6 separate regions of the Homo sapiens genome follow, and all the other regions are reported to be linked to region 2. Evidence: microRNA targets listed by miRTarBase, many of them from high-throughput screens and not tested one by one. Region 2 holds a microRNA gene; each other region holds the end of a gene's coding sequence.

Region 1 (5,000 bases), not on the chromosome of region 2:
ATAGGCAGAGAAGTGAATAATCTGTACAGGAGATGGCACTCGATGCAGGACTGAGGGAAGAGGTTTGACAATGGTAGACTTGAGGGTAGGGTAGAGGAGGTGCTGAAGGAAGGGCTCCAAGAAGAAATAACAACATGCAGAATTAGCGAGCAGGAAAGCATTCCACCAAAGAAGCCATTCAGTGACCAGACATCGAATGAATTTGTTGTGGAAGAACTAAACATTTCAAGGATAGGTCAGTCAACATTATCACTGTGGAATAAGAGATGAAGGCCAGGAAAAGGCCATTTCCTCTGGGGTTACTGTGGCTATCGATATTTGGTTGCTTGGGTATTCAAAGAGTCTAATAGCCTTTGATCTACTTTGCTTAAGCTCCAGCCAAAGATATCTGGTAACCTTGGAGTGTCTCAGGTTTCTAAATATAGCAGTCATCTATCCTAGGTTTAGAGTGGGTGTTCCAACTTTCTCTGTTGTGACATATCTTTGTGCTACGTCTACTACCAGGTGGTTTTCAGGTCTACTTTAATCATTACTGTTGTTTGTTTTTAGATCTTTTTTAATTTTTAAATTTATTTATTATTTATTTTACTTTAAGTTCTGAGATACATGTGCAGAATGTGCAGGTTTGTTACATAGGTATACATGTGCCGTGGTGGTCTGCTGCACCTATCAACCCGTCAACTAGGTTTTAAGCCCTGCACGCATTAGGTATTTGTCCTAATGCTCTCCCTTCTCTTTCCCACCCACGACAGGCCCCAGTGTATGATGTTCCCCTCCCTGTCTCCATGTGTTATCATTGTTCAACTTCCACTTATGAGTGAGAACATGCGATGTTTCGTTTTCTGTTCTTGTGTTAGTTTGCTGAGAATGATGGCTTCCAGCTTCATCCATGTCCCTGCAAAGGACATGAACTCATTCTTTTTTATGGCTGCATAGTATTCTATGGTATATATGTGCCACATTTTCTTTATCCATTCTATCACTGATGGGCATTTGGGTTGGTTCCAAGTCTTTGCTATTATAAATAATGCTGCAATAAATATATGTGTGCATGTCTCTTTATAGTAGAATGATTCATAATCCTTTGGGTATATACCCAGTAATGAGATTGCTGGGTCAAATGGTATTTCTGGTTCTAGGTCCTTAAGGAATCGCCACACTGTCTTCCACAATGGTTGAACTAATTTACACTCCCACCAACAGTGTAAAACCATTCCTATTTCTCCACAGCCTCGCCAGCATCTGTTGTTTCCTGGCTTTTTAATAATTGCCATTCTAACTGGCGTGAGATGGCATCTCATTGTGGTTTTGATTTGCATTTCTCTAATAACGAGTGATGATGAGCTTTTTTCATGTTTGTTGGCTGCATAAATGTCTTCTTTTGAGAAGTATCTGTTCATATCCTTTGCCCACTTTTTGATGGGATTGGTTTTTCTTGTAAATTTATTTAAGTTCCTTGTAGATTCTGGATATTAGACCTTTGTCAGATGGATAGATTTAAAAAAATCTCTCCCATTCTGTAGGTTGCCTGTTCACTCTGATAGTGTCTTTTGCTGTGCAGAAGCTCTTCAGTCCATACTCTACACATTCAGAGAAACTTCTCTAGTAACGAACTATAGAAATGATCCCTCAAAGTATAGTTTGTTTTTTTTTTTTCACATGAGAAATTGGATGAGATCATGTTTCCGGGGAAAGGAGATAATGAGCAGTGATGCCACTGTCCATGGCTCAAGTATCATACTGCAAACATATGCCTGAAGTGGGTGGCAAGAAAACAGTTTAAGCTAAGTTTGAGTTCTGCTTGCCCCAAAGACCCTACACCTGGTTTCAAAGATTGACAATTTGGTTGATATTGAAAAGATATGTAGAGCTTTTAAAATGACAACAGCTTTTTAAAGCATTTTAGAGGGCTGGGGCACAGGGCCAGGGGAAGTAGCCCTGTAATTCTAGCACTTTGGGAGGATGAGGCAGGATTGCTTAAGCCCAGAAGTTCAAGACCAGCCTGGGCAACATAGTGAGATACTGTCTCTACAAAAAATAAAAAAAAATTAGCCAGGCGACTGCACTCCAGCCTGGGTGACAGAGCTAGACCCTGTCTCAAAAAAAAAAAAAAAAAAAAAAAAAAAAAAAAAAAAAATTCACTAAAGAAGAAACCTTTCACCCATCGGACTAGCATAGATCCAGAAAATTTGGTATTCTGAACAAGATAATTCAATGCAGCATAATCTGTAGTGGCGAAAGATGGCAACAACATAAAATGTCCATCATTAGAAACTGGTTAAATAATTGTGGTATAGCTTCACAGTGGAACACTTTAGTCATTTGCTCTGGAACTGTACACTAGACACTGATAACAATGGTGGCCTCTGGGAGGGGACTGGGCTGGGTGGACAGGGTGGAAGGGACTTTTCACTTACCTTTTGCACCTTATAAACGTATTACCTATCTCTACCCATCCCCCAACTGAAGCAAAAAAAAAAGTTTTCTGGTGGTAGAGGGTGCACTAACAGTGTTTAAACACATAGGAAATGAGATAAATCCTAAGCAAAGTCATTAGTCATTATGGGGATTATTTAGACTAAGTCTGAATTGAAGGCCATCTGATCTTCCCCACTCCCTTTTCTTTCCACAAGGAAAAAGGATGCAAAGGGTAGGAGCAAGACAGCACCAAGAAGTTATGAAGCCAAGAAACATGTTGATAGACACTTTATTGTGGCTTGTTTGTAGTAAAACATTCAACCCCTCAACATGGGTATCTGTTTTGGTGGTGTTTTTCTGTTGGAGACTACAGCGTGGTGTTCAAAGGCTTTTAGCCTCATCTCATATCAGTCTAGTCAGTGGTTGCCTATAATTTGATAGTTCAATGAGTTAGAGGAAAATGTCAGGAAAATCTGGTCTTATCCCAAATTAAGGGCTGCAAGATTTGTGACCCATTAGTATAAAGTGCTTATGTTCAGTGCAAAAAAGGCAGACTCAGAAGGGCAAGCAGACGCCAGAGAAGGACATTTCCTGGGAGATGGATACGTTCTATGACTCAAGGAAGGAAAAGCCAAACTTTAGCCCAAATGGGTCTAGTAGTTTCATTACAGTCTTTCTCCTCTCTAACAGGACCAAAACTTCTCATCTGACAGATGTCCATGAGTTGTTTATTTTACTACTAAAAATCTTGGTTCAGAGGGAAATCCACAGGGTTTCTGAGCACCAGAGACACTGACTTCAGCTTCCAGTTTCTGTTTGTCTCAGCATCATGGATGGGACCAATAGGCTGAGCTCTGGCCAGTGAGAGGTTCAGAGCTGCAGAGCTTTCTTTAGGCCCCACATTTGCAAATTGAAGTCACTGAGTATGACACACCTTTTCTCAAACATTGTCACATCTTGCGTGGGAAGACAAGACAGTGCATATTAAAGAAGCACTTCACCTAGTTTTCCACCAACCAGATGTGACCTATTCATTATTCCCTCATTCTGACTCTGTCCAGAGGCCCAATTCCAAAGCCAACCCTTGACTCCCTTTTCTAAGACAGAGAAAAGAAGCGCACTCCCTTCCCAATGACCCCACATGTCTGCATATCCATCCTGTGGTCCTGAAGAGACTGAAGGGAAGCAGGAGGGAAAAGGAAGCAGCTTCCTAACCAATTCAAGGAGCGCAAACAGGACTGCAGCTCAAATAGGTAAAATCGAGTCATTCAGTCCTAGGATCCTGGCCACCTTTTCTCTCCCCAGACTCTCAAAGAGGAAGTCCCATTCTCTCACCCACCAACTTTGCAGCAGGGACATTCACAACAGGCAGCTCTGTGCTTGTGAGCACCCGCTCCCCCCACCACCCCCCACCGCCTCCCCTGTATCCCTGTTTGGATGGTTAGCCTTTCTTTCCCTCTTGCCCGTGTTAGCCTCACAGACCTGATCATTTATACACATACCCACAGCTTTCAGATGCCTGCACCTGAAAACCCTTCTATTCAGACTACCTTCCAAAGACTCCAGGACTTCTTGTGCTTGGGAGAAGAGACACCTGGAAAACAGGTTTATTCCACAGGTAGCACTTGCCCCAAAGCCATCTCTGAATTTTGGAATGGGAAGGAAGGAAAAGAGGCAATCCTTTTGGTGTTGCTCTAATTCTCTGTAAAAGCCCTCTAGGTAAGAGGAGCTACTAAAGCACGTCCACAGAGGGGGGACTATACAAACAGGACAACCCGGGTCAAGAACCAAAACGCAGGGAAGGTTTTCAGAGTGGCAAGTCTAAAGTAAAGTGCCTCTTTTAAATGGAGAAGAGTTTCATTTGTTCAGAAATGCTTGGGCGTAAACATCAGCGCACAGGAACATGCACACGTGTGTGCACACATACTCACTCACTCACTCTGAGGTAGAAAGAACTGGCCATCTCCAGACAAACACACATAGATTCCACAATTTTAGAGAAACATGGCACTTGCGTGAAAGGTCCTATCCTTGCCCGGGAAGGCAAGTAGGGTCCAATCCAACTCTTTCCAACCTAGGGCAGAGCCAGAGAAGTCCCACTCCACTGGAGGAAAGAGGTGGAGGGCATCGCCATCACTGCTGTTGCCCAGCTCTCAGGCCACGTGTTCCTGGCCCCACTGCCCAAGGTCACTTCCTGGAGCCTGGGCCATGGGCACCCCGGGGGTGGCTTGTCAGAAGCCACTGGGCACAGATGTCTTGCACTACTGCATCCCCGCTGCTCTTGGCGGCCTGCTGCACCTGCTGGACAAGGGCTGTGGCCCGTGAGTGTTCTTGCTTCACAGCAATCAAGTAGGCAGAACGCAGTTTGCAACATATCAGGTAGGCCCGAACCTGGCAGTCAGTTATAAGAGACAGCGGAAAGGCATCCATCACCGACAAATCAAGTATACAGAGCTGCAGCAGAAAGCTCGGGCAGACAGACACCATGTCTCACCTGCCACGTTCATAACAGGATTCATGTATTTTATGGTATTATAACAACTCTTTCAATATTCTGGACATATGCTATAACACTGTGTTAT
Region 2 (5,089 bases):
CAGTGACTGCAGTCGGGCCGTGGAGTGTCGCCTGTGATTCCGTGGTCCCTACGGGCAAGAGCTCCCATCCCGGTCTGAAACTGTGAGAACCGCAAGCTCCGATGGGGGCGGGGAAGGACGACCTTTAATTCCCACCCCACTGTACGGAGCCCAGCAGGGCCATCCGCAGGAGGCCGGCGGGACCCTTGCCTTTCTCAGGACTGAGAGGCTTGGAGGACCGCGGTGTGAGCTGCGCGGCAGAGTGCGTTCTGCAGGCGCCAGACAGGAGACGCGAACCCGCGGTCAGGGCCCGAGTGCGGGTGCGTGTCTGCGGGTGCCGCTGGGCTGCGTGCCGGCGAGGCGTGCGCGTGGCGAGGCGTGCGCGTGGCGGGGTGTGGCTAGAGGTGTCAATGTGCAGCTGGAGGGGCTGCGCGCGTGGGTGCAGGAGGGCCATGTGAGGGGCTGGAGTGTGTGGGAGACAGGCGTTTCCTTGGGTCTCCGTGTGGCCGCCGGGCGCAGGGCACGGTCGAGGGCGCTCGATGGCTGAGTCCGCGTGAGCCGAGGAGCGCGCGGGGCGGGACGCGGTGCGAATGCGCGGGAGGCACGAGGCGCGCAGTGCGTGTGTGCGCGTGTGCGCGGCGCGCGTGCCCCGCAGTTCTCAAGGACACCTCGGGGAGGCAGCGGCGGGGCCGGTGTCCGGGTGACGTCACCGCGCGCCCCAGTGATAATCGGCCGGTGCCGGAGCGGAGCGCGGATACGCGCGGAGGCAACGGCGACGGCGGCGGCGGCGGCGGGCGCGGGGACAGTTGCATCGGGGCCGGGCCGGGCTAGCAGGAGCTGGGCGCCTGCAGCGTGGACCCCGTGGACACTCGGCTCGCAGCCGGCCTGCGGCGCTCGGGGACTTGCCTGGCTCCCTTCTCGGGGTTCCCGCGCCCTTCTCCGCCCAGGGCAGCAGCGCGCGGGGCCCCCGGGAGCCGAAGAGCAGGCGGGAACTGGCGGCGGCGCGGGAGGCGCAGGGAGCGGAGGCGGCAGCAGCGGCTCCCGCCGGGACTGGTAATTACGCTCGGGGCCGGGCCGGGGCGAGCCGGGCAAGCGGCCTCTCTGGGTCTCCCCGTCTTTCTCTCCACGAACAGCTCGAGCGCCTTCTCGCGGGCCCGCTGCGCGCGGAGAGGACGAGCTCGCTGGGTTGTAAAAAGAGACGAGTTTTCATCTTTGAGCATCGAGATTCGTTCTTTTAACCGCATTCGGTGCGCGCTCCTGGGTCGGCACGGGCAGGGCGACGGCAGGGGAAGGCAGCTGCGGAGGAGCTCGCGCCGCCCAGTCGGAGCGGTTCTGCGCCCCTCGGAGCCCCGCGGGAGGCGGCCGGGTGCGCACGCGCTCACCACCCCCACCCCCGGAATCCGTCTTCGCGATTCCCGGGCGCCCCAGCTCCAGGAACGCCCGGAGGGACGCACTTGGGGGCCCACTCTCTGCCGCGGAAAGGGGAGAAGTGTGGGCTCCTCCGAGTCGGGGGCGGACTGGGACAGCACAGTCGGCTGAGCGCAGCGCCCCCGCCCTGCCCGCCACGCGGCGAAGACGCCTGAGCGTTCGCGCCCCTCGGGCGAGGACCCCACGCAAGCCCGAGCCGGTCCCGACCCTGGCCCCGACGCTCGCCGCCCGCCCCAGCCCTGAGGGCCCCTCTGCGTGTTCACAGCGGACCTTGATTTAATGTCTATACAATTAAGGCACGCGGTGAATGCCAAGAGAGGCGCCTCCGCCGCTCCTTTCTCATGGAAATGGCCCGCGAGCCCGTCCGGCCCAGCGCCCCTCCCGCGGGAGGAAGGCGAGCCCGGCCCCCGGCGGCCATTCGCGCCGCGGACAAATCCGGCGAACAATGCGCCCGCCCAGAGTGCGGCCCAGCTGCCGGGCCGGGGATCTGGCCGCGGGACACAAAGGGGCCCGCACGCCTCTGGCGTCGCGGGGCGGGTGGGGGCGGCCGAGGGCGGCCGAGGGGGGAGCCTGCGGCCGGGGCCAGGCTGCGGCCAGCCGGCCCCCGGCCACGTGTGTCCGCAGCGCGGAGCGCCCAGGCGCCCGCAGAGGGCGGCGGGGCCCGGGAGACAAAGGGAGGGTCCACGGGGAGCGGCGGGCGGGTGCGTGGGGCGGCGGGCTAGGGTGCGGCGCTGTCCGCGGTGCTGGCGGCGGGGCGGCCCCCGCGGGACGGGAGGGCGGCCAAGTGCGGCCCTCGCCCCCACAGCGGGCGCCCTGGACAGTTGCCACGGCAACGTGGGAGGAGGTGGGGCAGGGTCTGAGGTCACCGCTAAGTCTGCCCTTCCTCGGGCCGCTGCGCCGCGGGGCGGGGCGGAGGCGGCGCTCGCTGTGGCCCCAGAGCAGCCCCCGCAGCCCAGGACCAGGCTTGCATGGGGACGGGGGTCTGCGTCCGCGTCCAGGGTCCAAACGAGGGCGGTGGACACGCCGGACCGCATCCCGCCCCCAAAGCCGGCTCTGGGCTGTGCAGGACCAGGCACGTGAGACTCCGCAGCCCAGGGAGAAAATGACAAATCCCTCCCCCGCCGCCATCTGCAGCCGCAGTGACACCCACTCGGGTTTGCTGCAGGGGTTTTTTTTCTGTCCCCGGAAGCCAGCGCCACCTGCTGACGCCCGGCACCGCCTCTGCGCCGCCTCCCCCGCGCCCATCCCAGGCCCCGGCTGGGCTGTGATGCCCCGGTAACAGTCAGAGGACGACCCCCTCCCCAAAAGCCCCCTTCCCCTGGGGCGAGTGCCAGACCTGGCTTTGCAGCTTTGCCTCTTTCCTCTTAACCAGGTAGAGGCTGAGCCTCTCCTCCCCGGCTTCAATCCGAGGCAGGAGTCTGAGTCACCTGAAGTTCTCCCAGCTCCAGGCCCAAGGCAGGGAGCAGAAGATCAGGATAAAAGGAACCATTTGAGTTTCAGGCAGTGGCATCTCCACCCCCACCACCGCCGCTGCAGGGCCACAAAGGGAACCTGCCTCTGCGGCTGTCCTCAGCACAGACCTCCAGCCCCTCCACCCAAGTCGCCTGCTGCAGACACAAGCAGGAGCCACTGGTGCCTCCATCTTCCCACCCCCACCCCAGTCAGCCAGGCAGAGTCAGAACACGGTCCACCAGTCTCCTCAGGGGCAGGTTCCCCCTGGAGGGCACAGAAGTGGCATAGGCAGCCCCAGCAAGCCCCGGCCTGACCACAACACTGACCCCGGGGCTTGGCGTCCCCTTCTTCCTTCCTCCCGCTGTGAGGGGACAGGCAGCATCCCCCAGGGGCACTTCTGGTCCTAGAGAAGGGGAAGGGGCCCCAGGATCGTTCCAGGACAACACCAAAGGGACTGGTGGGAGTGGGGTGTTCCTTCGGGGTACAAGATGTGGCCCTAGCCTAGCTGGAGCTTCCTCTTGGAGCTCTGACCTCCAGCCTGGCCCTTCCCTCGGAGGGAAGGTGGCCCCTGGCTGCTCCCTCCTCTGGGGCCAGAGATGGGGGCTGGGGCTTTGTTCTTGTACCACTTTCCTTCCTGGGGAGGGGACTTGGCTCCTAGCCAGAATGGACCTTCCATGTCAGTAGCCTGGGGAGGGGGACACTTGAGAGCTGGTGGGAGCGCATGGGCAAACTGCCCTTGGCACTGTCCCTAGACAGTCAGTCTCTGTGGGGTCTCCTAGGAAGAGCTTCCTGGACTCTGTCACGGTCAGGGAGCTACCTCTCCTGATGCCTGCCCCCAGTGGTGCACCTGGGCCCCAGCCCCCAGGGCAGACTTGTGGCTTCTGGGCTGGAGCTCAGGGGGTCACAGGAAGGTGGGCAGCCCAGTAGGTATGGGGCACACGGGGGGAAGCTCACTGCGAAGGAGCTGCAGAGCTGAGTGCGCACCTTCTTGGGCCAGGCCTTACCATAGCTGTAGCACCGTCTGCCGCAGTGCGGGGAGGGCCCCATGTGCCACAGGGTCCACTCGGACCTGCAGCAGCTGAGCTGCTGGCCTCAGTGAGAGGCCCTTGGGGCAGGGGCCACCATCACCATGCTTTGCAGCCAACATGGACTGCCCTGCATGTCCAGCTCAGCCTCTCCTCCTCCTGCTCACACCCGCAGCCACAGTCACAGACATGCTCACACAGTCTCACCTCCCACGCACACACAGACACTGCCCGCCTCCACTCAGGAAGAGCTGGGCACATACCCCCAACTGAATCCTCAGCACCCAGCCTGCATTGGGTCGGCTGCCAGGCAGTGGTCCTGGTGGACAGCAAACTTGAGCCAAGGGCTTGGGACACCCTCTGACCAGACCATGACACCCAGCAAGGCCAGCTCAGGGCTATCCAGCAGGGCCCTCCCCAGTGTGGGACCAGAGGAAGACATCCCTTCCCTGACCCAAAGATTTTTATTCTGAATAAAACCTAATAAAGCTGCTGAGGCTGAAGCCACAGGCCCCACAGTCCCCTCTGAAATTCCTCCAAATCCCCCGGTCCACGAGCAGCAGAGGTGGGAGGAGCTGCAGGGGCCAGGCCACAATCAGCAGGGGCCAGGGCAGCCAGTCCCTCTATTCTGCAGCCCCTGGTCTCCACCTTGATCTCACCTCCAGGTAGGGCTCCCTGTGTGGCCATTGGCCAGGAGCCCCCACCCTCCTTCCCCTCAAGTCCAAGCCCCCTGGCAGGTCTCTGGCCAGGGCAGAGATTAGGAGCTGGCTCTCAGCCTCCCTGCCCCTGGCTGCCTCCTGGCCGTGCCCATAAGCCGGGCTCCTGGCAGTGATGACCCCAGAGTTCAGACCCTCACAGCCCAGCCTTCACCCCTGGTGCCCAGACCAGCTGCTATTTTGGGGCTGTGGGTGCCAGGAACAGTTGGCAGCTGGGTGGGGTGGGGCATAGGGGATAATGTTTGGGAATGAATTAAAAACTAAAAAATGAAATGATACAGGGTGACTCCCTCCAGCTTATTAGAGGGATGGAGAGGCCTTGCCCGACAGTGAGAGCACAGAGCAGAGAAGTCTGCCTCTGCTTGGTGACCCTGTCCCGAGGTGCCAGGAAGGTAGCAGGGTCTTCTCAAGTCACCGCTAGCCAGGGACATGGGCCAGAGGCAGCCCTGGAATCCAGCAGGCTTGGCATTGGTCCTGGGACCACTCATG
Region 3 (5,075 bases), not on the chromosome of region 2:
CTGGGAAATGTTCTCTTAACACCCAGCCTAGCTTTCTTTCCAGTAGACCAGACTGCATGTGCGTTTGGAAATAAATGGAGCCCATGAATCATTTAGAAATTATTAGGGCTGGGTGTGGTGGCTCAGGCCTATAATCCCAGCACTTTGGGAGGCCGAGGCAGGAGGATCCCTTGAGGCCAGGAGTTTGAGACCAGTCTGGGTAATGTAGCAAGACCCTGTCTCTGTGAAAAAATGAAAAAACAATTGCTGACATGGTAGCACACACCTATAGTCCTAACTACTTGGGTGGCTGAGGCAGTAGGATCACTTGAGTCCTGGAGGTCAGAGTTACAGTGTGCTGTGGTTGGACCACTGAACTCCAGCCTGGCTCACAGAGTGAGGTCCTGTCTCTAAAAAAATCAAATGTGTTAAAAAACTTATTAGACCCTCTTTGTCTTTATGAAGTCAAAGGTCCAACTGAGTGGAAAATGCAACCTTCCTGATACTCTAGATCACTAAATGACTGCGTGGTTCAATTGCACACACACTGTCTTGTAGCTTGGACCAGGCCCTTGTCTTTGTCCTGAAAAAAGGCAGCCGGACCTAAGTGCAGATATCTCATAGGAATTGGCAGCCAGGAGGGTGCACGTACAGGCCCTTTGAATATTCCTGAGAGATGTCACAGTAGTGAACTGCATGCATCTCCTCGGAAAAATCCGGAGGGCTTTGCCTCAGCAGAGAAGGCAAATCCAACCCAAGATGCATGAACAATAAATAACAACTGTTCTGAGTTAGCTTGAAAGCTCCCAGTTGCACTTTGTTTCAAGTTGTTTGTGCTAACCACAATTTTTTTTCTCCCCTTCTTTCCCACCAGGGCTTATTTCAAAACCTTTGTCCCTCAGTTCCAGGAGGCAGCATTTGCCAATGGAAAGCTCTAGGAAACACCAGTCTTGAGAGGTGGCCAGCCAGACTGCCTGTCCACATGCGTGTCAGCACATACAGCCGCTTCCTGGAAGCCGCCTGGAATGTCTTCACGGCAGCGTTTTGCTCACACAGCAGCTTTTGCACGCCCCAGGCAGCCCCGACTGCTGAAATCCAACTTGAGCTGGCTGGTGGTCCCTGGATCCTAGAGCCCTTCACTTCGGGTTACTCCCTCTTTCTTGCCTCTATTTCTTAGTTGGAAGAAATAAACTCACAAATTATGGTGCAGTAATTTTCCGGGGAAAGTAAAGCCTCAGGAATGCCCACGCCTTTCTTCCAAAGCCTTTGTCTCTGAGACCTCTTAAGTTCTAAGATTAAATGCCCCTCGCTGTTCTTCCTCTGAAACTAGTGTCTTCCCTCTGTGCGTGCATGTGTGTGTTTCATACCCAAGCATTTCCTATCTGGGGCAGTCCTTCACGGCGAGAAGGAGTTACCTGAGTCAATGTGACCAACCTGCTGGGTTTCAGCCACTCATCCAGCCTGACCTAAGGCTGTTGCTCAATAACAAATGGCCTCTAGCACACACAGCCCCACCCGCTGCCATCCATACCCCTCCAGCCCCCTGTGTGGACACCTTGTTCCCAGGCCAGCCCCACACAGTAGGCAGTCATTAAAGTTTGGTGAGTGCACCAACGGCTCTGTCCTTCCGGCTCTCCCCTCTCCATCCCCTCTGGGCCTCTGCAGCACTGTGTGAATTATACACAAAGACAAAGCTTGGGTGTCATGGTTTATCAGAGGAATGTGTCTGCTTTCTGGGCTTGGGGACTGGCAGTTGTGCAGCCAGCCAGGAACAGAGCTGGGGAAGATACCCTGAGCAGGCGACATCTTCCCTGAACTTACTGATCATCACAGCCAGAAGGGTCTTCAGAAGTCATCTCGTTTCTACCCCGTTACTCCCTTCAGTGTACAGAGGACAGAACTAAGGCCCAAGAGTTAAGGAAACATGCAAATTAGAAACAGCAAATTAGGAACAAACCTGGGAACTTGGAGCCAGGCCTCCTTGTACCATCACACACTCGCTTAGCTGAAACACAAGATGGCTACCGTCGGCTTGGCCATATCACCAGGTTTACAGTTTGGTTTAGCATGGTCCTGTCCTGATGGCCTTCCACACAGGGAAGCAGGGCCCACGCACCACCCACAGAGGTGAGGGCAAGAGCTGGCCTGGGTGCTCGACCTGACACCCTCTGGCCTTCCCATTCCAAGGCGAAGCCACTGGCCCCTCCTGCAGGACACACACATGATTTTACAGGGCCTCTCACCTGGTCCCTTAGTTCCCCTCGTGGCTATTGGAGCCCATTTTTACCAGGTGAGCGCAAAAGAGAACCATCCCTGGGCCCTTGTGAAGACTGGTGAGGAGAAGTCGTGCCTCTGCTTCCTGTGTTCTCTGGCACCCAGGAATGTTCTCAGGAGGCTGGAGATCAGCTGGAACAGACCTCCCATCTTGCCTGTCAGCTGGAGGCCTGCCCAACTCTGGGTTTTTTCACCGTGTGGGTACTATGCCCCCTACCCTGAAACTTTGGGAATTCCCAGGACAAGAACAACAGTCCAGTGTCCTATGTCCATATCCCAGCCCTGCCATTAACTGGCTATGTGGCCTTGAGTAAGTCCCTTCCTCTCCATAATATTAATACTAGGAGGGGGCTGGACTGGATTGTGGGCTCAGCTCATCAGATCACCCGGGGAGATTTTTTTAGGAACTACTGCTCTGGTAGTTCCCACTGCAGGCCTGTTGACTTGGAATCTCACTAGCTGGAGCTTAGCCTTCTAGATTTTGATAAAACTCCCCCAGCGATTCTACTGAGCAAGTGATCATGACCCACTAAGCCAGCTGACCACACTGGCACTGCTTCTGACCCTGACCCGCTGAGTGCCCACAAGAAGGTGCCCCTCTACTCAGGGCAGCTGTGTGCTATGCCCCATGTCCCCTCCATCCCCCACTAAGGTGCCATGGCATGGTCACTTAGGATTGCTAGGGGCACCCTCCCCTGATGGAGGGGTACGGATTGGGCTCTACTGTGCACAGCACCAAGAGTTGACTGAGCCCGGACTTGCTTCTGAGCTGCAACTGGGTCTGAAGCAAGCCCAGGCTCAGTCAACTCTTACTGGTTCCACTTCTAGCAGATGGTGGTTGGCACTGTGGGAGGGGGTGAGGTCCTGTGGACTGGTCGTCCCCTCAGCATTTCAAATAAGCATTCAGCAGTGACAGCAGCCAGTAGTGGGCAGTGTGGTCTGGGAATGTCATCCTCCTGCCCCTGCCAGCCCCTGGGGGCCCACAGACCCAGAAAACGAATGAGACCCTGCCCATCAGCGAAGCACACAGTCTAACTCAGAAGTTTTGCCACACACATTAGCTCACACAGCTTTACAGCAGACCTGGGCTGTGAGCAACTGAATAGGGTTGCTTTTGTTCCACAGATGAGGAAACAGAAGATGAGAGAAGTTAAGTGAGTTACCCACGATCACCGGCCGGTCAGGGCCGGAGCCAAGACCAAATCCAGGCTCTTGGCTCCCCTCCAGCAACAATTCTCACGTGTGTCGATACTCTCGTGAACAAACTGAAGCTTATTTTTTTATTTCCCAGTGAAGGATGATGGACGTTATATAGGTTTGTGAAGATGGAAATTTATGATTATTTTTAAAAGACTTTCAGCTTCCTTGCCACAGGGGAGGATTTGGGCTGGTTTTCTTAGAGGGGATTCAGCACAAGGTGACAGTCACCACTGTATGTTTCCAGAACCAGGGACTCAAACACCAGGGTTTGCGTGATTTTATCTTTACCCCGCAACAGCAACAGAAGCCGGTGGCGCCTGTAAACGAGTGAAGGTCACCTGTATATTTGTAAATACTTCCTGCCGGTTCAGCCTGTCATCGAGCATCGTACCTGCACACAGAGGGCAGCCCAAGACTAATTAGTAAATGGCTATAAAATGCTTTGAAGATGAAAAGAACCATATGTGACAGCATATTATTAATACTTAGTAAATCCTGTCTCCGGCTTACTCAGCCCTTGTAATTTCAGTTGAATCTCTCTTGCTTAGCACTGATGAGGAAAAGGACTCACACGTGTTTACCAGCAATACTTGGATATGATCAAGCATCTGTGAGGCCCCGAGAAGGAGGGGCAAGGGACCCTGGTTAGCCAATGCTCAGCTTCTTCCAGCAGCCCGGCTTCCTGAGGACCCATCGCCTACAGCCAAATGACCCTTTTTTTTTGTTTTGTTTTATTGAGAGGGACTCTGGCTCTGTCGCCTAGGCTGGAGTGCAGTGGCACCATCTCGGCTCACTGCGACCTCCGTCTCCCAGGTTCAAGGGATTCTCCTGCCTCAGCCTCCCGAGTAGCTGGGATTACAGGCACACGGCTGTAATCCACCACGCCCGGCTAATTTTTGTATTTTTAGTAGAGACGAGGTTTCACCATGTTGGCTGGGCTGGTCTTGAACTCCTGACCTCAGGTGATCCGCCCACCTCGGCCTCCCAAAGTGCTGAGATTACAGGCAGGAGCCACCACGCCCAGCCTCAAATGATGCTCTATTAAAGCTCATTTTCTTGTGGAGACATGAACTAGAAAGAATATGAAGTTGAGGATGAGAGAGGAAAAAAAAGAGAAGGACCTTGGTTTGTACAATTTGCCAATTTCTATGGTGTAAATACTCCCCCCATGATGGACTGCAGGCCACCAATGTGAGGTCACTGGACGCAGAGTTGGGAGGAGCAGGGAGGGTCATCGTGGGAGCCTCTGCTGGAGTGAGCTGGCCCCAATGTCTGTCTTTACTTAATCTGAGTTTTGTTATCCTCATCTATAAAATGGGAATAAATATCTGCCTCCCGGGGTTGTGAGAATTAAATAAGAAAAGTACCTAGAGCACCATGTGCAGTGCTTGGCACACAGTAACATTTGACAAACAGTGGCTATTATTACCGCAGACCAGAAAAAAGATTTTCTGATGTTGACTTTGGCCTTTTTCTAAAAAGTCAGAATGTCCCTGTTAAAAAGTCCTGCCAATGAATTTGGCCTTTGGAAAAGTGACCCTGTCTGGATTACCAGGAAGACAAAATGATGAGTCATCTTGAATTTTAACGGATAAGAGATGCGATGTATTTGTGGGGGTTCC
Region 4 (5,089 bases), not on the chromosome of region 2:
TGTCACTTATGGATATATCAAGGGAATACTTCTTGTTTGAAAATGTGATTCAAACCTTGTTCTGTCTGCCTCTCTTCATTATGTAATATCTTACTAATTGAAGAGTAGTAGCTTAAAAGGTGGCATTTACACTAGAAGCCAAAAAGAGTTTATCAGACATGGCTCACCTTAGAAAGATTTGCTATTAGGTTTGCTTCAATGAAACCATAAAATCTTTTTCATATTTGTCACTTAACTATGAGTCTTGGAATTTAATGTCTGTTGTTTCCTTTTATTCTAGGATCAACTTCTATACAATCCATTCTTAAAAATGTGCCTTTCAGCAAATGGAGAGCATCCAAGTTTAGTGTCATGCAACCCATCAGATCCACTCCAAAAATGGATACTTAGCCAAAATGATTAAGTGTTCCTTAAAATTAAGTTGAAAAAGGAAATATTCTTTCTCATAAAACTGTGACTAGGCATACACTGTAGTTTTTGAAAATTATGCAAAAGCAGCTAAATGTAACTTATTCCAAGTGCATTTTTCTTATTTATATCTTTATGTAGCACTACTACAGAAATTCTGCAAGTTTCTGTTTCAAAGCACAATAACTAGTAATACCAAAGACTATTTCAAAATGTCCAGATGTAGGGGAAGAGATGTTTACAGTATGATGAAAATAATTTTCCAAGTAAAGTGATGTTTGTGTGTTTTGTACACTTAGGGATATATATATATAGCTACATTCACACACTCACAATTTAAAATATTTCCCCTAGTTTTTTGGGGGGATAGGAAGAAAGATTTGTTACTGTATTTTTTTAACTACATAAAAATAGATCAATAAATGTCAGCATTGGCCTCTGTGTACAAACCAAGAGCTTTTACAGATCCAGAATTTATTAGTTTAAAATGCAGGTGAACTTTTTTTTGCGTTTGGTTTACTTGTCTGTCAAATGTTTCCTTAAACATGAAACTGAATAAGGAGAAGAGTATTTTTAACACTTAAATTTCTTGGCAAATTTTAAAACATTTTTTAGTCTGTAATACACTCCACTTGAAGCACTTAAGTCTTCCTTAAATGACTTTTCTTAAGTAATGATACTGTGTGTTTTCCCAAAGCACTTTTAAAAAAATTTTTATAAATTACTATCTGTTGAAAAGGTGTCCTTTTCCTTTCTTCTAGTATTTTTTTCTTACCAAAATTCACTAATCTTGAATGTTTGTGATATTAAATTTCAAATGCAGAATACTTGACTCATTTAAAGCTAAATTTTGTTACTGATTCAATTATAATTGTAATGGATTTTTGACTTTGTAATGGATTCTTTTCATCAAAAAGCCTTATTTTTTTATCTATGTGGAAAACACAATAAAAAATCCTCAACACTATTGTAATCATTTGGTTAAGTTTTTTTCCTCTTTTGGGTAAAATCTGTAATTGATAATAGGTGGGGGAAAATGAATTTTGTATGCTGAATTTCTAAGCGCCTATTGTTTGTAAAACCATCAGATATTTCTTATGGCACAAAAAATGAGGAATAGCAAAATTCCTGTGTTCAATATTTAGAAAATTTTGTATTAATTTCTGATAAAGTTCCTTAAGCATCTGATAGAATGATGTTTTAAAAAAATTTGACGCTTGCTTAGGAGATTTACCACTTTTTTTTTTTGTTTTTCGTCATTTTATATTTAGATCTCCTGTATTCTTGTTCCCGAAGTAAAATACGATCGGTTTCATATTTTAAATCTGGCAGAGCCTCAGCTGTACGAAAAAGAGCATATACTGGTTATTGACCCTATCTTCTCATTGTTTGTTTGTAAGTTTGAATTTGTATTAAAAAGCCTGCATTCTGAGCTGGACATGGTGGCTCAGCTTCTAATCCCAGCACTTTGGTAGGCAAAGGTGGGAGGATCATTTGAGCTCAGGAGTTCCAGACCAGCCTGGGCAACATAGCAAAATCTCATCTCTACAAAAAGTAAAAATTAAAAAATGAAATTAAAAATAAAATTACCTAGGTGTGGTGGCACGCATCTGTAGTTCCAGCTATACAGGAAGGTGAGGCAGAAGCATTGCTTGAGCTTGGGAGATCGAGGCTACAGTGAGCTATGATTACACCACTGCACTTCAGTCTGTGTGACTGAGCAAGACTCTTTCAAAAAAAAAAAAAAAAGCCTACATTCTCCAGTTGATTATTTCAACTAATGTGTATTATGTGCCTAATTTTCTATCAGAAGTTGTATTAGCCCGTTTTCACACTGCTGTTAAAGACATACCTGAGACTGGGTAATTTATAAAGAAAAATAGGTTCGATGGACTCACAGGTCCGCGTGGCTGGGGAGGCTTCACAATCATGGCGGAAGGTGAAAGGCATGTCTTACGTGGAGGGAGACAAGACAGAATGAGAACCAAGTGAAAGTGGTTTCCCCTTATAAAACCGTTAGGTCTCGTGAGACTTACTCACTACCACAAGAACAGTGTGGGGAAAACCACCCCCATTATTCAATTATCTACTACTGGGCCCCTCTCACAACACGTGAGATTTATGGGAGCTACAATTCAAGATGACATTTGGTGGGAACACAGCCAAACCATATCAGAAGTGATGGTAGGCAGAGTAAGACTTGTTATTACTTTTGAGCTATGTCTCATGGGTCAGAAAGAAAGGCAAATAATTTTAAAGTAGAAGGTAAGTACCACTAGGCATGAATATCTATGAGCATATATTTCTCTTAGAGCTTATTATATCTCTAAACACAAAATTATTTCTCAAAAATATTTCATAAATGAACTTAAACATATTTTCAAAAAAACCAAAGTGAGTGCCCTGCATGTATCACTCATATGTTGATATATCATGATCCAACTGAAATCTACTTAGAGTAGGTTGATATTATTATGGGAAAGTCCTTCTTACCTGATTTGGCAGCCTCAGGCTATTGCTCAAGTGTCATACAAATCATGTCATTAAGGACTGGACCTTTAGGGTAGGTAGTGCCTTTTAAAAGTCTTGAGTTTTGGAACAATGATAACCGAGAGTTATTTATGGAACCTGGCTGCCATCCACCTGAGACTTAACTGCACTCAAGTGTGAAATTGTGGAATTCTTGCTCAATTTGAAGCTGCCATGGCAAATGGTCTGGTTGCTACAGAAGACCTGGCATGCTGCCTTCATTCCAGAGCACCAAGTCCTAAGAACTCTCGGTTGGTAAGCTGCACTGCCAGATCCACTAGGGTTAACCTGATGGGCAAGTTCACTGAAATCTGAGAGGGGATCACAGAGTTAACTATAGGAGAAAATAAGCAACACACTAAAATTGCCCATTACTATAACCAATGATGATGGATTTTTTAAGCCCCTATATTACCAGAGACTAGTATTGGACAATTTAGTTAAGTACTTTATATACCATCAAAATATAAGTGCAAAAAGGACAAGGTTGACTTTATCGGAAGGACTAGAAAAAAATCATTTTTAAAATGCTGTTATGTGTAGATGAGAATTGTAAAAGATAGGGAAAACAAAAAACTAGGCAGATTCTGTACTCAGATTGCTTCACAATTCACTTTAAAGACAGCAGAAATAAATATCTTTAGACAATGCATTTTTAGTATGCTTTGTGCAAGGAAGATGTTTGCAGAACTCTCAGAAACCAGTTCATACTCAGATAAAAGGCCTTGGGCCCTACAAAAGAATATCTGTGAAGGAATTAATACACATACAAATGTGGCATTGTGTGTGTGTGTGTGTAGTGTGTATGTGTGTGTGTGTAGTGTGTATATTTTAAATTAAAATATTTGACATCTTTTTATGAATTTATATTTTAATTACCTTTTCCAAATTATCAACCTACCCAATCTTCCCTTTTCCAGTCCTACAGTCCTACTTTTTCCACATCACCAGCCCAACTGCAAAAGAGATTCCTCCTGCACGCCTAGTCCCTCTCGCTCTCTAGGCTTCCACAACACCTAGGAAATTTTTTGTGTCTGTTTTTGGGATTTTATTAGGCACCAGGCACTAATAATATACAAAATAGTCCCCATCTGAAGGCGGAGAAAGTTATAGTTTAGTAATGTGGTCACCAATGTGGTCTCATAATGATGTTTTAAAGAGAAATAGTCCCATGATGAAGTCAACATATTCAACTTCTGGTGAGTCCACTGACAGGAGCTAGAGGAGAAAACAGGCACCCCATATTTTAGAGGTAAATAATTGAAGTAATGCTTCTTAAACCTTTTTGTACACACAATAATAAGATTCTGATTGATTAAGAATCAATCAGTTTGAATAAGATTTTGATTCATTAAGAATCAATCAGATTGAATAAGATTCTGATTAAGAATCAATCAGATTGAATAAGATTCTGATTGATTAAGCCTGGGGTAGAGCTTGTAATTTTGTATTTCTGACAAACTTTCAGGTGATACCAAAGCGGCTGGCCCTGGTACCGCGCTTTGAATAGAAAGGCTACCCAGTGAACCAATGCCCAGGGTTCTTCGAGACTACCATGATGACTTTGACCATGCTTGACATCCATAATTACTTCTAGTACGACCAGAAGTCAATGCCTCTCTATCAACCATTATCATCATTATTCTTCCCTGGCAGATCCTACATCCTTTGTATATCTCTAAGTTGATAAATCCCCCACCTTCTGATAACCTTCTACTCTGCAAACTTCTTTGATTAGAAAACTCTATTATATCAGCAATTTTGTCTCTGAAAATTCTACGTATTGTCTTGCCTTAACTGAACTGGACATTAATTAAGGATAAATCTTCCAATTCTAGTGAGGGTTATTGTTTTTTGTTTTTGTTTTCTATCATTCCTCTTGCACTTCAAGGCTAGGATTTGGGATAGGTGTGTCCTTCTTCAAAAATGCCCCAGCTTATTTGAAGCCGTGTCATGTGGATATATTATGCTCTACCCCTTCGTGCTGCTGTCAACCATGAATTTATAGGTCATTTATCTTAATTCATTCCCTGCATTAATTGAATACTTTAGTTCCTGTTGGCCTTTCTTTCTTTATACCTCTACTTGTGTCACCCTATGGGTGACTTCATTATTGGTGCAGATAACTCCAGCATTCTGAGCTCTCTGTATT
Region 5 (5,089 bases), not on the chromosome of region 2:
TTCATCACCATCTCCTACGCCTACATCTTGGCAGCAATACTGAGGATCCCCTCTGCTGAGGGGCAGAAGAAGGCCTTCTCCACTTGTGCCTCGCACCTTACAGTGGTCATTATTCATTATGGCTGTGCTTCCTTCGTGTACCTGAGGCCCAAAGCCAGCTACTCTCTTGAGAGAGATCAGCTTATTGCCATGACCTATACTGTAGTGACCCCCCTCCTTAATCCCATTGTTTATAGTCTAAGGAATAGGGCTATACAGACAGCTCTGAGGAATGCTTTCAGAGGGAGATTGCTGGGTAAAGGATGAAGGTTACCCCAATAGGACACTTTCTTCTGTGTAGGCTGGGCATAGACCAAGAACCCAAGCCAAAGGGCCAGGTATTCAAGGCCTCAGGCCAAAGCTGTCCTACCCCCAATCTTCTGGGAAAGCCTTATCCTGCCTCTTGCCCTTCCCCCTGACTGCTTGGAATGCAGAGGCGGGGCTTCCTGCTCTGCTCACTGTGCACAACTCAAAATGAGCCCAAAATCTGAATTTTAACTTTCAGCCTCCTAGATGCCACCCCTAGTTACTGAAACCCATTGAGAATTAAAAATTTAATTAAGATAATCAAGAATTTTTTAATTGAGCTGAACAAAATGAGGGAAGTTTGGAGTGTTCAAGTTCAAGGCAGGGCTGGCTGGAGCCCATCAGGGATACTGTAGAGATTTCTAAAATCATTACATAATTAGACTATTTGACCTGTAATGTTCTTCCAAGATTTGAAACCTGGGGAATATCAGCTTGACAGGTTAGTTTAAAGCTTTGTTAAATGAACAGGTGGGTCATTTTTACTCCCACTGGGTGTCTTTCATCTTTTTATGTTTTTATTTTTTTTAATTTCAACTATTATTTCATATACAGTGGGGCACATGTGCTTATACATTCCTCATTGTGCTATTGACAGTAGCAAAAACATGGAATCATCTTTTTATATAGTTGTCCTCACTATCTCTGACTCTGTTACTTTGCCCTTTTTGTTTTGATTGATTTTCCAAGCTGGGTGCACTCTATTTCAGAAAATATATTTACTTCCTATTTTTTTTTATAACTGTTAATGTTCCCTGGTAGCTTCAGAATCTTGAGTGTCAAAGACCTTTCTCATTTGGGTCGCTTATCAAATTGGATACTGTTCTTTTGAATCTATTGCAGAACTATCTATTCTGCCTATTCCACTTTCCACATATAATGTGGTTATATATAGCGGCGGACATTATTAGAGAAAGTGTAATGAACTCACAAGACCGTCAGGCAGGAGTTTGAATCCAAACTCTTCAACTTACTAGCTGTGTGACTCTAGGTAAGTTATTTAACATTTTTTTCAGCTTCCGAGTCTTATCTTTACAATGGTTGGTGACTAAACAGGATCATGCATACAAAGAATTTAGCACAACCCTTGGATCATAGCGATCGTCCAATAAATTCCAGTTGCTACTATTAAAATGTGTGAAGGAAAAAGATATTGGCTTTTAGTTTAGGTAGAGTTTACTCTAGGTGGAGGATCAGAGAAGACTTCATGTCTTAAATAGTATCTGAACTTGTTCCTAAAGGATGGGTGAGCTTTGAATGCACTGACTGGGGAGAAAGTACATTCTCAGAAGAGAGAATGTAATAGCCAAAGGCTTGATGGTAAGACAATATAAGCCTAGTTTAATGTGTGTGAGTTATTCAGAGGGGCTGGAAACAACTCACAAATGATGCTGAGAAGTTAGTTTGAGTCATGACTTACTTGTTGAAATAATTTGAATACCTTGCTTCAGACATGGTCCTTTTGTCTATAGGAGATAAGGCACAGTAAAACGTTGAACAGAGAGAGGCATCTGGGAAGGGATTCAGGAAGATTAATCCAGCAGCAAAGGGGATGATAGATTTCAGTAGAGAGAAACCAGAGGCAAGGAGATCAGCAAGAAACCCATGGATATCAGCTTAAAAAAAGGCAAAGAGGCTTGAATATGGATAGTGACATTCAGAGACTGAAGGAAATCACAAACATGAGATTTTGAGAAGGTAGAATTCACAGGATTTGGCAGTGAGATAGAAGTGGGGCATGGCTTGAGAGACAAGGAAAGACCTTAGGCCGAGAAGATATTTTTCAGACAGAAATCCATATTTTTTCATGCTTTCAGGAAAGAAATACATCCTCTAATTGGAATTTGATGAAAACAATTTGAGAGGAAGGAAGCTAGAGCTCAGAGAAGAGAACAGGATGAAGACAAGTAGATGAGTTAGTCAGATAGCCAAAAGGGCCTCATCAGGGGAGAAAGGCCATCTACTCTGAAGTTCTCAATATTGGAAGAAGTAATGCCTCATTGCACTGAGGCCATGTGAGCAAATTCATTTCACCAGTTCATTCAGTCTGCCCAGCATAACATTGACTAAATGCACAGTGACGAATGGTTAGTAAGGATGTTTCAAGTATTGCTAAGTAATACTTAGAGGTCTAACTTCCACATGTAGTAGTCTTAAGTATGGAAGGGTATAAAATCACTTGGAGGGATTTTTCCAAATAGGTGTTTTTGGAATCTATCTAATTTGTTTCTACCTTGAAACAATTGATTTGGGATAGGGACAACATAATAGTCTTCAAAATCTCGTTTGGTGATTCAAATTTCCTCTCTTGATTAAGTATGTGACTACGCGCTTAGAAAGGGCAAACTCTTCTTCCAGGTACACACATTTGACCCACTAAATGACTAATAATTTGATTTAGGCCTTGAAAATTTTTGGCAGGGTTAGCATTGGGGGAATGGAATCACATCCACCTTTGCTTGTGATTATTTTCAGCACAAATAGTTTTAGACTATCCATATGTGGTAAGTGTGATATTAAACAATGCTAATTTTCGATGGCCTATATCTTTTCTAACTGTACTATTTTTGGTAACTTATAATCAGGCAATTTAGACATTTGTGAACATTAATTTTGAAAATACTTTCTGCTTGTTATATTCCATAGTATTTGACTATTTAAGAAAAGAATCACTAAAATACCTGTATGTTGTTAGTATCAATGATAACTTTTTAGCTTTAACCAACTTTTTGTTTAAAAAAGGCTCCTATGACAGGATTTGTCCTGCACAGATTCATTTCTATGCAGAGGAAGGGACTGAGACTTAAGATGGTAATCAAGTGGCAACATGAATGGATTGGTAAGTGGGGACTATTTGTGCAGAACGCTAGCAGTTTTATACACAGCAATTAAGATATCTAAGAATTCTCACCAGCAAATGACACCATTACCTTTTATAGATCAAATCAGAATGTCGGCATATAAACCTGTTCAGAATAAACCTGGCCTGAAAATTTTTGAAGATAGCATCACCTCTTCTTTTTTTAAAATTAATTCTTAATTTTATAAATAATTCTATTAACTGTTACTTTAACAGGATATTGAAGTATTATTTTTATTACATTAAAACTTAAGAGAAAATACGGGAGCTTGGAGGACAAGAGAAAGCCCTGCTATGCTGGAATTTTGTCTTTCTGAGAGTAATAACATCTACAATAATTTTGAAGTATGGAAAAAAAACAAGAAGAAAACAGGTGTTATGCTGATCTGTGTGTTGTTTCATTGTACAAACTAAAATATTCATGTTCCCCAGAAAATCAAATATCTTTATTTTCAAATTTAAATTTAAACACATTCCAAAGTTTAAAAAAATTGTTTGAAAATTGCCTTGGATTTTATTTATCTACTATACCATGGCCCTTCTTTACAGTAAAATTAGCTGCCCACTCTTATATGAGTACAGTTCCCAGAAATATAGAAGCTCAACATTTTACTTAACTTTGCCCCAAAAAATATTTTTAAAAAGAATTACTTTATTCTATAATCGGAATAAAGCAAAATGATAAAGACGTGCAAAACAGAACAAATAAAAATAGAAACTTTGACACCCCTCAGCAGTGACTAGTTGCATACAAAATAGCTTCCACTCCTCCAACTCTATTAACCTTTCTATCTCCCACCCTTGAGATTTTTTAAGATCCTACAATAAATGTAATATGCACACAAACACAAGCACACACACACACACACACACACACACACACACACGAGGCCATCTTTATCTTCCACATTTGCCTGTACTCTTTGCCCCCCAGTAAATTTCCCACGACACTAAGATTTTCTACGATCCACGAGGAGCTGCTTATTAGTTGCCAAAGTAGGAATTGGTGAAGCCAACGTAGTCATAGCCAGAGAGATGGCTTCGACCCCGTGGGTCCATATATTGCTGCATATGTGTGGCACAGAATGACACTTGCTCTGGGGTAAGGGCCTGAAAAGTATAAAAAGAGAAAAATACAGTTATAGGGATTCAAAATAGCTGGTTCCTTGGGGCTTCCCATATTACGCCATAAATGCAGGAGATGGAGAGTCTCTGGAAGACGCAAGCCCTATTTCTATTACACACAATTTTTATCTCATAAATTTATAATTTCTAATGAGTAACTTAACTTTTAATCTCAGCCCTTTCTTGAAAAAGAGAGCTTACTCACTTTGATTATTCTGTAAATCTCATTCCCTAAAGTTGTTTTATTAAATAGAAGGAATTATATGCCTAACAACATTTGTTGACCACTTGATCTATTTCATCTTCCTGGCTGCTTTGAGATGTGGGGACTAGCATGTTTTATGAGTAAGGTAAAATACTCAAGAAGGTAGAATAACTCACCAGTGGTTACACTGCCAGAAAGTGGTAGAGCTGGGACTTGAACCTATGATCCTCTTATGCCAAAGAGTTCCTCTATTCACTGTGCTGTTTGATTACCAAGTGGATCCCTAAAGACTCCAATAAGTTAGCGTGTGGGTGGGTGGCTCCAGATAGTGTCTGGAAGACCACATCATTTTCTTTTTGTAACAGCTTTGTCGAGGTATGATTGATAAAGAATTGCACCTTTAATGTGTACAGTTTGATGAGTTTAGACAATTGGATGAGTTTGTGCAAAACGATACCATCATGTATGTGACCCTTTGTAATCTGGTTTCTGCTTAATTGTTTTCCCTTTCACTTTCTGTTACTATCTTCTTACCTTATGCTTTAGGTATTAGG
Region 6 (5,089 bases), not on the chromosome of region 2:
AGACAGTGTGATTTGTGATTATAGTTATTTAATACTCATACTTATCAAACTATTATATATTAAAACCAATAACCATCTGAACTTATTTGAATATAGTTTTCCCTATTCTGTTCTTAGAAATTTCAGTCATTAAAAATCTTTATACTTAGTGTTTTAATTTTACTTTGATGACAGGAATAGTGTTTTTCTCAATGAAAGATATAATAGCAGCTTATAAGTGATAACTGTTTTCATTCTGTTTTTAAGAGACAATATTTTGGTCTTTTTTACCATGATAGTTTAGTGTGTGATGTCATAAAAATGGGCTGTAGCCATTTAAATTATTGTTGAAGTCAGAAACTAAGAGACTTCAGTTTCTATTAAGCCATGTCAACCCCTATTAGGAGACCTTTAGTGGTTCCAGTTCCAGGGCCTTCTTGAAGAAATTGTGATACTTGTTTAAGTATATCTAGAGTTTTCCTTTCCAGCATTGGCTAAGTCACATACTTGAGAAATATGATACATAGAGAAAGTTGCTGACTGGATGAACTTTTCTACATTGAATACTTTAAATCTGGATTCTAGAATAAAATATATTGATGCATATTGGAGTTGTCAACTGTTTATGTCTTGTTCTTTTCAGCTTCAACATTGCTTTATGGCATGTGTGGTCGTTTTTCACTCCATTGTTGTTGTTTACCCAGTTTATGGGGGTTGTCATGTTTATCACACTCCTTGGATGATTTCCGAAGGTAAGATATCTGGAGTGGTTTTTCTAAAAATGAACTCGTTTGAAAAATGTCTTTTATGACAATTTTCAGTGGATGGAGCTGTAACAGACTATTTGTGAATTATTTTCAGTCATGTTTACACCAGAGTTGTCCACACTAGAATTATCCATTCATTGAACTCTGAGATAGACTCCTTTTTGTTTTGAGACAGCTTCTCACTCTGTTGTCCAGGCTGGAGTACGGTGGCATGATCACAGCTCACTGCAGCCTTGACCACTTGGGGGCTCAAGCAATCCTCCCACCTCAGTTTCCCAAGTAGCTGGTATTATAAGCATGTGCTACCATGCTTGGCTAATTTTTAAAAATTTTTTTGTAGAAACAGAGTCTCCTTATGTTGCCCAGGCTGGCGGGGGTTGGGGGCTGAGACTCTTTCTTTTGTAAAAGTTGGTTCTAAGTGACTACTTTTTAGAGAAGGTACCCTGCCTTTCAAAGACCTCATAAAGACAGGATTTGTACCTTCCAATATAGTTGAATTCACACATTAGACCATTTTATGTTGAAATTATATTAATTTGTGTCAGCTTATATTCAGTGACTGTTGGCTGGATCATTCTTAAGAAATGGGAATACAGGAAGAATGAACAATTTTACCTAATTGGGAAAAAAAATTCTGCCATCTTCTAATTATTCTGACTTCCTCATAAAAATGTGTTGGATGACACAATCAGCTTTCGTTTGGTGTTATTTATAGAATTTCTGCCTCCCTACAGATCACCCCATCCTGAGATCTGCTGCCTTACACAGTGGAGGCTGTTTTCTGAGTGTCGGATAACTCTGTTATTAAATAAGTGTATATTGAGAATACTCACTCCAGATGCTTAGGGGCATGGTGAGAAGGACAAAGATAGTGCCTCCTGTCAGGTCACTTACATCAGAACTTGCAGGAAACCTGCTTTATACAGCAGTTGACAGGTGTGGAAACTGAAGCTCATGGAAATAAAAGTTAATACGCTAAATTTTCAAGGAGTTAATGAAAACTGACATTTCTGCTAAAAACAGCATGTTCTCCCTGTGGGATTTTAAAGGAAGGTCAGTGGTAACTGTGTAAAGAAGAAATGGACATACTCTCATTGTTAGCAGTCTGAAAATAGTTGCTAGCACCTCCATGCCCACGCCAATGTCTCCAGCCTCCTTCAGGCACCTTGCTGTGTCTTGGGACCACTGGGAACCCTCACAGGAGGCCCTTCATTCCTGTACACCTGTGGTGCCACAAGCGGCTTTGGGCCCGGAGGAATCCTACACATCTCAGAACACTTCCTCACCTGACCCTGTCACCCATCTCCCCTTCTCGTGTTCTCAGCCCCTTCTTTGACTCTTGAATTTTGAGTTTTTACAGATGTTTGGGAGCTCTTACTCTGACATGAAGTTATAATTGGTAATGGAGACTCAGACAATGTTGTAGATTACAGAGTGAACTATGCTTTTTAGTGTTAAATGCAATAGCTTGAGATACAATGTTTTACTTGGTACATAAATGCTGGTTTTCTTTCAGATTTAAGGACATACACTTTTTTTTTTTTTTTTTTTTAAGAGACAGGGTCTTCTATGTTGCCCAGGCTGTCTTTGAACTCCTGGGATCAAGTGATCCTCCTGCCTCAGCCTTCGAAGTAGTTGGGACTACAGGCCCACGCCACCGTGCCTGGCTGGACATGTAAATTTGAAGTGAATGGTTAAACATCCAGCTAGCTGAAAGCATGGCAGACCCTAACAGAAAAGCTACAGTGTGTTTTTGCAGCTATGAAGTGAATGGTTTCCTGGGGAAAATTGTGACTTTGTATAACTGTTGTTGAAACCAGAATAAATTATATTTCACTTGCATATGCATAAATTATTAAAATTTTCAGAAGTCAGTGATACAGAAGTACTATTTTGCAATGTTAATCTGTTTGAGTCTTTGGAGAAAGTGGTTTCATTGTAGGTACATAGTGCACTGTTAATATTTTAAACAAGTAGTTCACTCTTCCATTTAAGGGATAGCAGTTCCTTGTATAAAATGACTGGATGTGTATAAAGGAATTATGTTGTCATGTGCCTTTAACCAGCTTTAGTAATTACTATAATCTCATATTTATGATAGTTTTGTTAGGTGACAGGACCAAATGAAAATATTTTATGTTTTCTCATCACTTTAGATTTTATCATTATGTACATTACTGGGTTTTTAGCATTTCCTAATGTGAAGTTTTAATCACTTTTAAGTATACATTTTTTTCTGTATCATTTAAATAAAATATTTTTATAACTTTCTTGTGAGTTTTGTTCATGCGAACTTTGGAATAACTTCTGGTTTTTAGCTATTAGCACTTTGAATTAACTGTAGCAATAACAAGGGCTAACTCTGTTCTTCAAAGACCTTATAAAGACAGTATTTGCACTTTCAAATGCCAATATGTCTACATTAAATCTAAGCAGCATAAGCATTGTGACAGAATGTATCTCATGTTGATTGTTTTCTCTGTAAGGTGACTTCTAATAATGACCTGACTTAATCACCACTTGTGTCTGGTTCAGATCATACCCTGCCATTTACTAGCTGCAAGACCTTCAGTAGTACAGGTTTAGTATCCCTAATTTCAAAATCTGAAACTTTTTGATGACTGACGTGACACTCAAAGGAAATGCTCATTGGAGCATTTTGGGTTTTGGAATATAATGCAAATATTCCAAAATCCAAAACACTTCTGGTCCCAAGCATTTCAGAGAAGGGGTAGTCAGACTGTAATCTTTTTTCAGCTGTGAAGTGGGAACGATATCTGTCTTGTAGGGTTGTGCGTAATAGTAATAATGTTTGTAAAACACCAATTACAGTGCCTGACACAGTAGGTGTCCACTCAATAAATGGTAATGGAGAGGGAAAGAAAGGGAAAGCAGGATCTAGGATCAGGAATATCACATCCGGTCATGATGTCTGCAAAGGGGAAAGGCATGATGAGTAGACAGAAGCAAACCCAGTTTGTGGTCATGGGTATGTGAAGGTGTGGCGAGAGTGTCATTTAAAATAGGGAGCAAGGCCAGGCAAAGGCCACAATCAGGCAGCCTAGTCAGGCAGTGATTAATCAGGCAGTGATGTGAGGGTCTGGTACAACTGAGGCTGCAGCCCTGGAAGGTAGGGCATTTGGATCAGACTCCCTGGAGGGAGCTTGGGTGGAGAGTGCCCCAGTGTCAGCCTTCACACATTTTATATCTTTTTTTTTTTTTTTCTTGAAGAGTATGTTTACAACATGGATAGAAATCTAAGGCTGGGATGTGTTTAAAACAATTAGTTAAAACCCAGTTTCCCAAGAGCTAATAACTGGCCAATTAGGATGGTATGAAGATTATCCTATTACTTAAAAAAAGACTTTGAGACAGAGTCTTTAACTTGTCATAACATGTCTGAACAGGATCTAGTTTGAGACACTAAGAAGGATAAGACATCAGTTTGAGAAGAGACCACATCAGTGCAACATGAATTCTGCTAAAATCGAAGCAAGCACAAACATCAATTTATTGTGAGGCTTGGGTGAAAAAATGGTGAAATCACTAATGCTTCATGAAAAGTTTATAGGAACAATGCCCCAAAGAAATCAACAGCTTACAAATGAATAACTTGTTTTGAGAAGGTATGAGATGATGTTGAAGAGGAAGCCCTCAGTGAGAGACCCTACACATGAATCTTTGAGGAAAAAATTAATCTTGTTTATGCCCTAATCAAAGAGGACTGATGATTAACAGCAGTTAGCAATAGCAGAAACAATAGACAGTGTCAGAGACGTCTCAATTGGTTCAGGTTACACAATTCTGACTGAAAGCAAACTTTCCACTTGATGGGCGCCAAAACTGTTGTGCCCAGATCAGTTGCAAACAACAGCAGAGCTTTCAATGGAAATTTAAACAAGTGGGATCAAGATCCTGAAGCATTTGTTCAAAAAGTTGCAACAGGATATGAAACATGGATTTCCTAGTACTATCCTGAAGACAAAGCACAATCAAAGTAATGGCTACCAAGAAGTGGAAGCGGGTCAGTCAAAGCAAAAGGAGACCAGTCAAGAGCACAGGTCATGGCAACAGTATTTTGGGGCTCAAGGCACTTTGCTTGTTGACTTTCAGGAGGACCAAAGAATGGTAACATCTGCTTATTATGAGAGGGTTTTGAGGAAGCCAAAGCTTTAGCAAAAAATTCTTGGGAAAGCTTCAGGAGAGTCCTCCTCCACCATGACAGTGCTTCTGCTTATTCCTCTCATCAAGGGCAATTTTGGGAGAATTTTGATGGGAAATCATTACAGTCCTGATTTGGCTCCTCCTAACTTCTTTTTGTTTCCTAATCTTAAAAAATCTGT

Evidence for each region. Region 2 holds the annotated microRNA hsa-miR-124-3p (UAAGGCACGCGGUGAAUGCCAA, at 1,700-1,721, shown strand). A microRNA usually pairs through its seed, bases 2 to 8, with sites in the 3' UTR of a target mRNA and lowers its output. Matches are read on the target gene's strand: a 7mer-m8 pairs with bases 2 to 8, a 7mer-A1 pairs with bases 2 to 7 and ends in A, and an 8mer does both.
Region 1: the mRNA of ZFYVE26 is a reported target of hsa-miR-124-3p. The part of its 3' UTR that is shown has no 7-base or 8-base seed match.
Region 3: miRTarBase lists BABAM2 as a target of hsa-miR-124-3p. The part of its 3' UTR that is shown has no 7-base or 8-base seed match.
Region 4: miRTarBase lists GALNT3 as a target of hsa-miR-124-3p. The part of its 3' UTR that is shown has no 7-base or 8-base seed match.
Region 5: miRTarBase lists SPTA1 as a target of hsa-miR-124-3p. The part of its 3' UTR that is shown has no 7-base or 8-base seed match.
Region 6: miRTarBase lists TMEM128 as a target of hsa-miR-124-3p. Seed matches in the 3' UTR shown: 7mer-m8 at 2,799-2,805.

The regions. Positions count from the first base shown.
Region 1 is chr14:67,743,831-67,748,830 of GRCh38, forward strand. It overlaps ZFYVE26 (zinc finger FYVE-type containing 26), which reads right to left. Exons shown (of 42, transcript NM_015346.4): 42 at 2,692-4,809. The coding sequence ends at 4,606. Among named protein-coding and RNA genes, the nearest start is that of RDH12, 44 kb to the left of the region's middle.
Region 2 is chr20:63,176,853-63,181,941 of GRCh38, forward strand. MIR124-3 (microRNA 124-3) reads left to right here and starts at 1,648; the gene lies at 1,648-1,734. RefSeq lists an enhancer at 895-1,855 and a silencer at 2,143-2,432.
Region 3 is chr2:28,337,597-28,342,671 of GRCh38, forward strand. It overlaps BABAM2 (BRISC and BRCA1 A complex member 2), which reads left to right. Exons shown (of 12, transcript NM_199191.3): 12 at 854-1,305. The coding sequence ends at 917. Among named protein-coding and RNA genes, the nearest start is that of BABAM2-AS2, 30 kb to the left of the region's middle. RefSeq lists an enhancer at 2,374-2,993.
Region 4 is chr2:165,744,095-165,749,183 of GRCh38, reverse strand. GALNT3 (polypeptide N-acetylgalactosaminyltransferase 3) reads left to right here. Exons shown (of 11, transcript NM_004482.4): 11 at 281-1,596. The coding sequence ends at 403. Among named protein-coding and RNA genes, the nearest start is that of GALNT3, 48 kb to the left of the region's middle.
Region 5 is chr1:158,607,075-158,612,163 of GRCh38, forward strand. SPTA1 (spectrin alpha, erythrocytic 1) reads right to left here. Exons shown (of 52, transcript NM_003126.4): 52 at 3,630-4,315. The coding sequence ends at 4,190. It overlaps OR10Z1 (olfactory receptor family 10 subfamily Z member 1), which reads left to right. Exons shown (of 2, transcript NM_001004478.2): 2 at 1-5,089. The coding sequence ends at 306. Among named protein-coding and RNA genes, the nearest start is that of OR10Z1, 4.4 kb to the left of the region's middle.
Region 6 is chr4:4,233,469-4,238,557 of GRCh38, reverse strand. TMEM128 (transmembrane protein 128) reads left to right here. Exons shown (of 5, transcript NM_001297551.2): 4 at 623-731; 5 at 2,302-3,016. The coding sequence ends at 722. Among named protein-coding and RNA genes, the nearest start is that of OTOP1, 9.1 kb to the right of the region's middle.